Linked DNA regions of Homo sapiens: region 1 is linked to region 2. The links come from fine-mapping of genetic effects on gene expression. Tissue or cell type: whole blood. Region 2 holds a variant in brackets; the other region holds the start of a gene. All regions are shown on one strand. Distances are from middle to middle.

Region 1 (2,681 bases), 87 kb after region 2:
AAAGGATTGAGCTGGGGAAGAAGAGGCCCCTTCCTCAGAGAGATGAGGGAGAAAGGCAGACCAGGGCAGATGTGGATGTAGGTAAATGTTGTGGTGTGTGGGGAATTAGCTTGTTAAGGGTCACGCCCAGATACCTTGGGATTTTTCACGTGGGTATAAAATATGATTCTCTGATGAGAATGATGGTCAAGGTAATGTGGGGGTCGTGGTGGTGGTCTGACGCAGCAGTAATAAGGAATGGGAGAAGCTGACTACAGACTCCCAGAAAGATTGCTGAAGGGCCCAGCTGAGGATGGTGACTGGGATTTGCACTGGACTCAACCTGCAGGTTTCGATGGTGCTTTCCAACTCCAGGAAAACTGGGCTGGGATTTGACAAAACTCTTGAGGAAAAGGACTCACAGAATTTAAAACTGCATTTCCCTTTAGGTTTCGTCTGCTTTCCATCCTCCCCTACCAAGCCCCACAACTGCGGCGAGCATGTTTTCTGCAGTTAACTGCACTGCGCTCTCAGCAGGACAGAAATGACGAATAACTCTAGCCAAGCTGAACAAGATAGGGCTTGGGCTTGGTAACTTTATTTGCATCAGCATTTGCAACACAACACCTAAATGAAAAAATTAACTATAAAGCCGACATCACTTACTCTGGGTCAGGGAACTGTGCCATTCGCTTTAAGTGCATTTACTTAATCTCAAAAAAGTATTAAGAAGTGAGTCCTTTTATTAATCCGACTTTACACACCAGAGGTCTAAGGCCTAAATAAATGAGCAATTTGCTTAAGATCATATGGCTGGTTATTGGTGGAGTCATGCAAGTCTGGAAACAGAGTCATCGCTAACTCCGGTTCAGTGCTACACGAGTGAACTGTCTACAACAAAGCAATAACATATTATGAGTGCCCACAGTATCGAACACATACGGTAACCGCAGTCCAGCCAGCACCCCTGCAGTGCCCAGAGCACCAAGCACCCATCCGTTGACCCCGCATGCGTGACGCTCACGCGCGCAGTCCCCCTGGCTTCTTCCAGGAAGGCTGAAGCGGCCTAATCTCGGCCAAAAGATCAGGACGACTCGATCTGGGCTGGACTCCTTCTGCCTGAGCATCTGATCCGAGCGTCGGCCGGGCTGGGAGGAGCCGGCCCCCGGGAAAGATTTCGGACTGGGGGACAGGAAAACAGAGGGCGGAGTCTTGGGGGGGGGAAGCGAGAAGCCGCATCAACCATGTAAGCAGCTTCGCTTCCTGCCGCAACCGTCCGCGGCCTGAGGAGCCCACCGCCGCTCTCGGGGGCCGACTTCCGGGGGCTGAGCCGTTGAAGCGGAGGCTGGGGCGGGGGGCAGCCGGCGCGGCCGGGGCAGGAGGCGCAGGTAAGGGAGGGGGCCTGGAGCTTGGCCGGCTGGGGCTCAGCATGGGAAGGAGGCCGGTATGGGGAGCTCCAGGGCCAGAGCTGAGGTGAAAGTGAGAACCAGGGCTCCGCAGTCGGGGGCTAGGGCCTGGCTGCCGGCTGAGCAAGGAAGGGCAGAGAATCTGGCTTTAGAATTAGCTTGTCCTCCCTATTCCCCGGCTGCCTTGTCTGGCGAGTGGGGACGGAAGCCGGGTGGGGCCCTTGAGATTTCCTTGGAAACATTTGAAGTTCCTTTGCCTCTCTCTCGACCCTTACGCCTGAACTTAATTAGGAGGGGAAGAGTACAGTTACTTTTCCCTCTGAGTGCATGAGTTCTGAGTTTGTCAGAGGCGCATCCGTAGGCTGGAAAAGAAAGTTCATGAGCTGCAGAAACGATACCAACCGTGGGGGTTCAAATAAGTGTTTGTCTTTTTAAATGCTTGCCTCTGCTATTTGAGACGATTCCATTTCAACTTAGGTTTTGGAGTTTCTTGAGGAGGAGCATTATTTCCCAATTAGTGTTTACCCTTTGCTTAGAATGTTCCCAACAAAAGGATGAGAATGGAATGTGTTGGAAACTTTTAGGACTTAGGGGTTTTCTGCCCAATCAGAGGTTATTCCTAAGACAGTCAAGAAATATAAGAAGTGCTAGAATTCTGTATAAAGCAAGTTATTCGTGTGTATCTGATGTGTATACATGATTCATTATCTACTATTGACGCAGTGCATCCTGTGTTGTAAAATATGTCCAGTGTTGACAATAGAGGTAGTCGCTTGGTATAATGTACTTATTTCTGATTTATTTGAGCCCCTTTTTTGGCACTCCAAAACTCCCACTCTGTCAGTTTTCTTACAAAAAATGTTCTTTCTTTTGTGTTTGTGACAAAGATTGTGTAGGTTAAATCTCTTCTGTGGAGCAAGGCTAATTTCCTGTGTTCTCCCTTTTTCTGCTTTCTGGATCCTGCTCTGGTTTTCCTTTAAGCGTGTTGGTCAAAAATTGAACAAGAAATCTTTGTTGATAGAAGCTAACATTTCCAATATTCAGCTTTCCTAAATTATTACATTGCCAGTTTTTTTTTTTTTTTTTTTTGAGAGACAGAGTCTCGCTCTGTCCCCCAGGTTGGAGTGCAGTGGCGCGATCTCCTCCGACTGCAACCTCCGCCTCCCAGGGTTCAGGCGATTCTCCTGCCTCAGCCTCCTGAGTAGCTAGATTGCAGGCGCGCGACACCACACTCGGCTAATTTTTGTATTTTTAGGGGAGACGGGGTTTCACCATGTTAGCGAAGCTGGTTTTGAA
Region 2 (2,698 bases):
TTTTGTGTTTTTAGTAGAGATAGGATTTCACCGTGTTGGCCAGGCTGGTCTCAAACTCCTGACCTCAGGTGATCCACCCACCTCTGCCTCCTAAGGTGCTGGTATTACAGGCATGAGCTACCGCGCCCAGCCTTCTAGCAACTTTAAATGAACCTGATTTATCTGAGCTACTCAGACACCCATGTTTGCAAACCTTCTTGACTGATAACCCAGCCAAACCTGGAGGGGTCCACAGTGCCATCCTCTCTAGGATGTGTTTTTCCATATTAGTCTTTTAGCCATGTGAGTTGGGACCAACTAGTCAGATGTGCTGATGCCTTTCTAGACCTCTCCCAGGTACCAGAAGGTGACAGGGAGAAAACAGTGACTGAAACAGAAGGGTTTGGGGCTCAGGCTTGTGTGTATATGTGCTGAGGGGTAGGGGAAAAGGAGAAAGGGCAGCCTAGAAGGGAGAAAGCTGCAGAAAAAGACAAGCAGGAATAAAGCAGTATGATTTGCTTGGCTATCCAAGGAACACAGAGAGCTGAGCTTTCTTTGAAAACCAAGAACAGCTTGATCTCTGAGGAGCGTCAGGCCTGGGGTGGCTTATATCTCAAACAAGGTAAGCTCCAATATAGGATATAAGATCTATAAGAAAAGTAATCTTGGCTGGGTGTGGTGATGCATGCCTGTAATCCCAGCATTAGGGGAGGCCAAGGTGGGAGGATCGCTTGAGCCCAGGAGTTCAAGACCAGCCTGTGGAACATAGGGAGACCCCCATCCCTAAAATTTTTTTTTAATTGTTTTTTGAGATGGAGTTTCTGCTCTTGTTGTCCAGGCTGGAGTGCAGTGGCATGATCTCAGCTCACTGCAACGTCCGTCTTCCGGGTTCAAGAGATTATCCTGCCTCAGCCTCCCTGGTAGTTGGGATTACAGGCGACCGCCACCACACCTGGCAAATTTTTTGTATTTTTAGTAGAGTTGGGGTTTCACCATGTTGGCCAGGCTAGTCTCAAACTCCCGACCTCAGGTGATCCACCCACCTTGGCCTCCCAAAGTTCTGGGATTACAGGCATGAACCACTGCAAACGGCCTGCAAAAAAGTTTTTAAAAAGTTATCTTGTCTGACTTGCTCACCACTGTATCCCCTGCACCTACAATTATA[C/A]TGAATGAACAGATGAGTGAATGAATGAGTGAGTGAATGAATGAAGTGAGTTGAAACTAGAGGGATCAGAGAGAAAGTTCTGATTTTCACAATGATCAAGGGCATTTGAGTCTCAGGACTACAGTCAGGTTACATATGGATTAAAGTGATAGGAAAGTTGGTTTCAATGTAAACACTTGACTTCTAAGGTGGACCTGGTGGGCTCTTGAACTCTACATGACCCCACTGCTTGCACAATGACCTGCAGTAAAAGAATAAGGGAGGCAGGCATTCCTGTGGCCACAGCCTTGCCCCTGCCCTGCCCTCCCTTCTGAATCCAGGTGGGGGCAGGGAAAGCCACAGTGTGAGCAGAAGACCTGGGCGTGAGGACGTTGGTGCCCCCCTTCCCCCCTCCCACTGCATGGCCCTCGCCACCTCACCTTCCCTTTCCTCTTGCCTCTTCTGGAGGTATCCAAAGGTGAAGGGATCAGTAGTTCACCTCTAAATAGCAGTTCATATTTAAATGTTTACTTAATGTTCATACATTTACAAGTGGCAAAAATGGAAGTGGTCTTAAAAATTATTCAGAACACCCTTTTTTTTTTTTTAAGATCAGTCATATGGAGGCCCGAAAGGGGAAAGGGACGCATCTAGGGTTTCATAGTAGTGGAGTCAGAACTCAAACCCAGGTCTCTGAACTCCCAGGTCATTGCTGCTTCTACTGTTAATGATTTCAAAGTAGTTTCATGGGAGGAGCTGAGAGTGGAGCTCACACCTATAGTCCAGCTACTTAGGAGGCTGAGGCCAGGATTTCGAGGATTACTGGATTACCAGGAATTTGAGACCAGCAGTGAGACCCGTCTTTAAAAAATGTAGTAGTGTTGTGGGAAAGGAAGATGTATCAGCAGTAAACTAGGGAATTTGTCATGAGAATGAGCCTTGTGGATCTTGTCCTAGTTCTAGAAGATATAGTACATCATAGAAGGGAACTGTGTGGACCTACCAGATCTACATTACAAAAAGTGTACGTGAAAAATTACATTTATTAGAAACAGAGCAGAGGTTGGCATGGTGGCTCATACCTGTACTCCAGTATTTTAGGAGGCCAAGGCAAGCAGATCACTTGAGGCCAAGAGTTTGAGACCAGCCTGGTCAACATGGCAAAACCCCATCTCTACCAAAAAATACAAAAATTAGCCGGGTGTGGTGGTGCATGCCTGTAGTCCCAGCTACTCAGGAGGCTGACGCACGAGAATTCCTTGAACCCAGGAGGCAGAAGTGCAGTGAGCCGAGATCGCACCACTATACTCCAGCCAGGGTGACAGAGTGAGACTCTGTCTCAAAAAAAAAAAACAAAACCACAACAGAGTAAAGTTTTGCCCCCAAGCCTGGTACTCATTGCTGCCCCTTCTCAGCCGTACACAAGATACATTTGTTATTACTGCATGGTCTTTTACATATGAAAGGCATTTCACACACGTTATTCAAGTAAGAAATGGTTATGTCTGGTTTTGTACATTTTGATGTAAAACTGTTATTTCATAATTGATGTCTGAAAATACAACATTATACATT

Which allele goes with the higher level. Alleles are on the strand shown, and positions count from the first base shown. SD is a standard deviation of normalised expression in the study named.
For the expression in whole blood of the gene that starts at base 1,207 in region 1, allele C in region 2 goes with a higher level than allele A (moderate effect, 0.56 SD a copy in GTEx).

Evidence for each region. PIP is the estimated chance that this variant, and not a neighbour inherited with it, causes the effect.
Region 1: it holds the start of PIKFYVE, and the variant in region 2 is fine-mapped to the expression of PIKFYVE in whole blood (GTEx, PIP 0.98).

Annotation. Positions count from the first base shown.
Region 1 is chr2:208,265,049-208,267,729 of GRCh38, forward strand. It overlaps PIKFYVE (phosphoinositide kinase, FYVE-type zinc finger containing), which reads left to right and starts at 1,207. Exons shown (of 42, transcript NM_015040.4): 1 at 1,207-1,367. RefSeq lists an enhancer at 1,044-1,093 and a silencer at 1,224-1,493.
Region 2 is chr2:208,177,986-208,180,683 of GRCh38, forward strand. The region is part of intron 6 of C2orf80 (chromosome 2 open reading frame 80); the gene reads right to left. Among named protein-coding and RNA genes, the nearest start is that of C2orf80, 11 kb to the right of the region's middle. The variant C/A (reference allele first, on the strand shown) is at 1,145.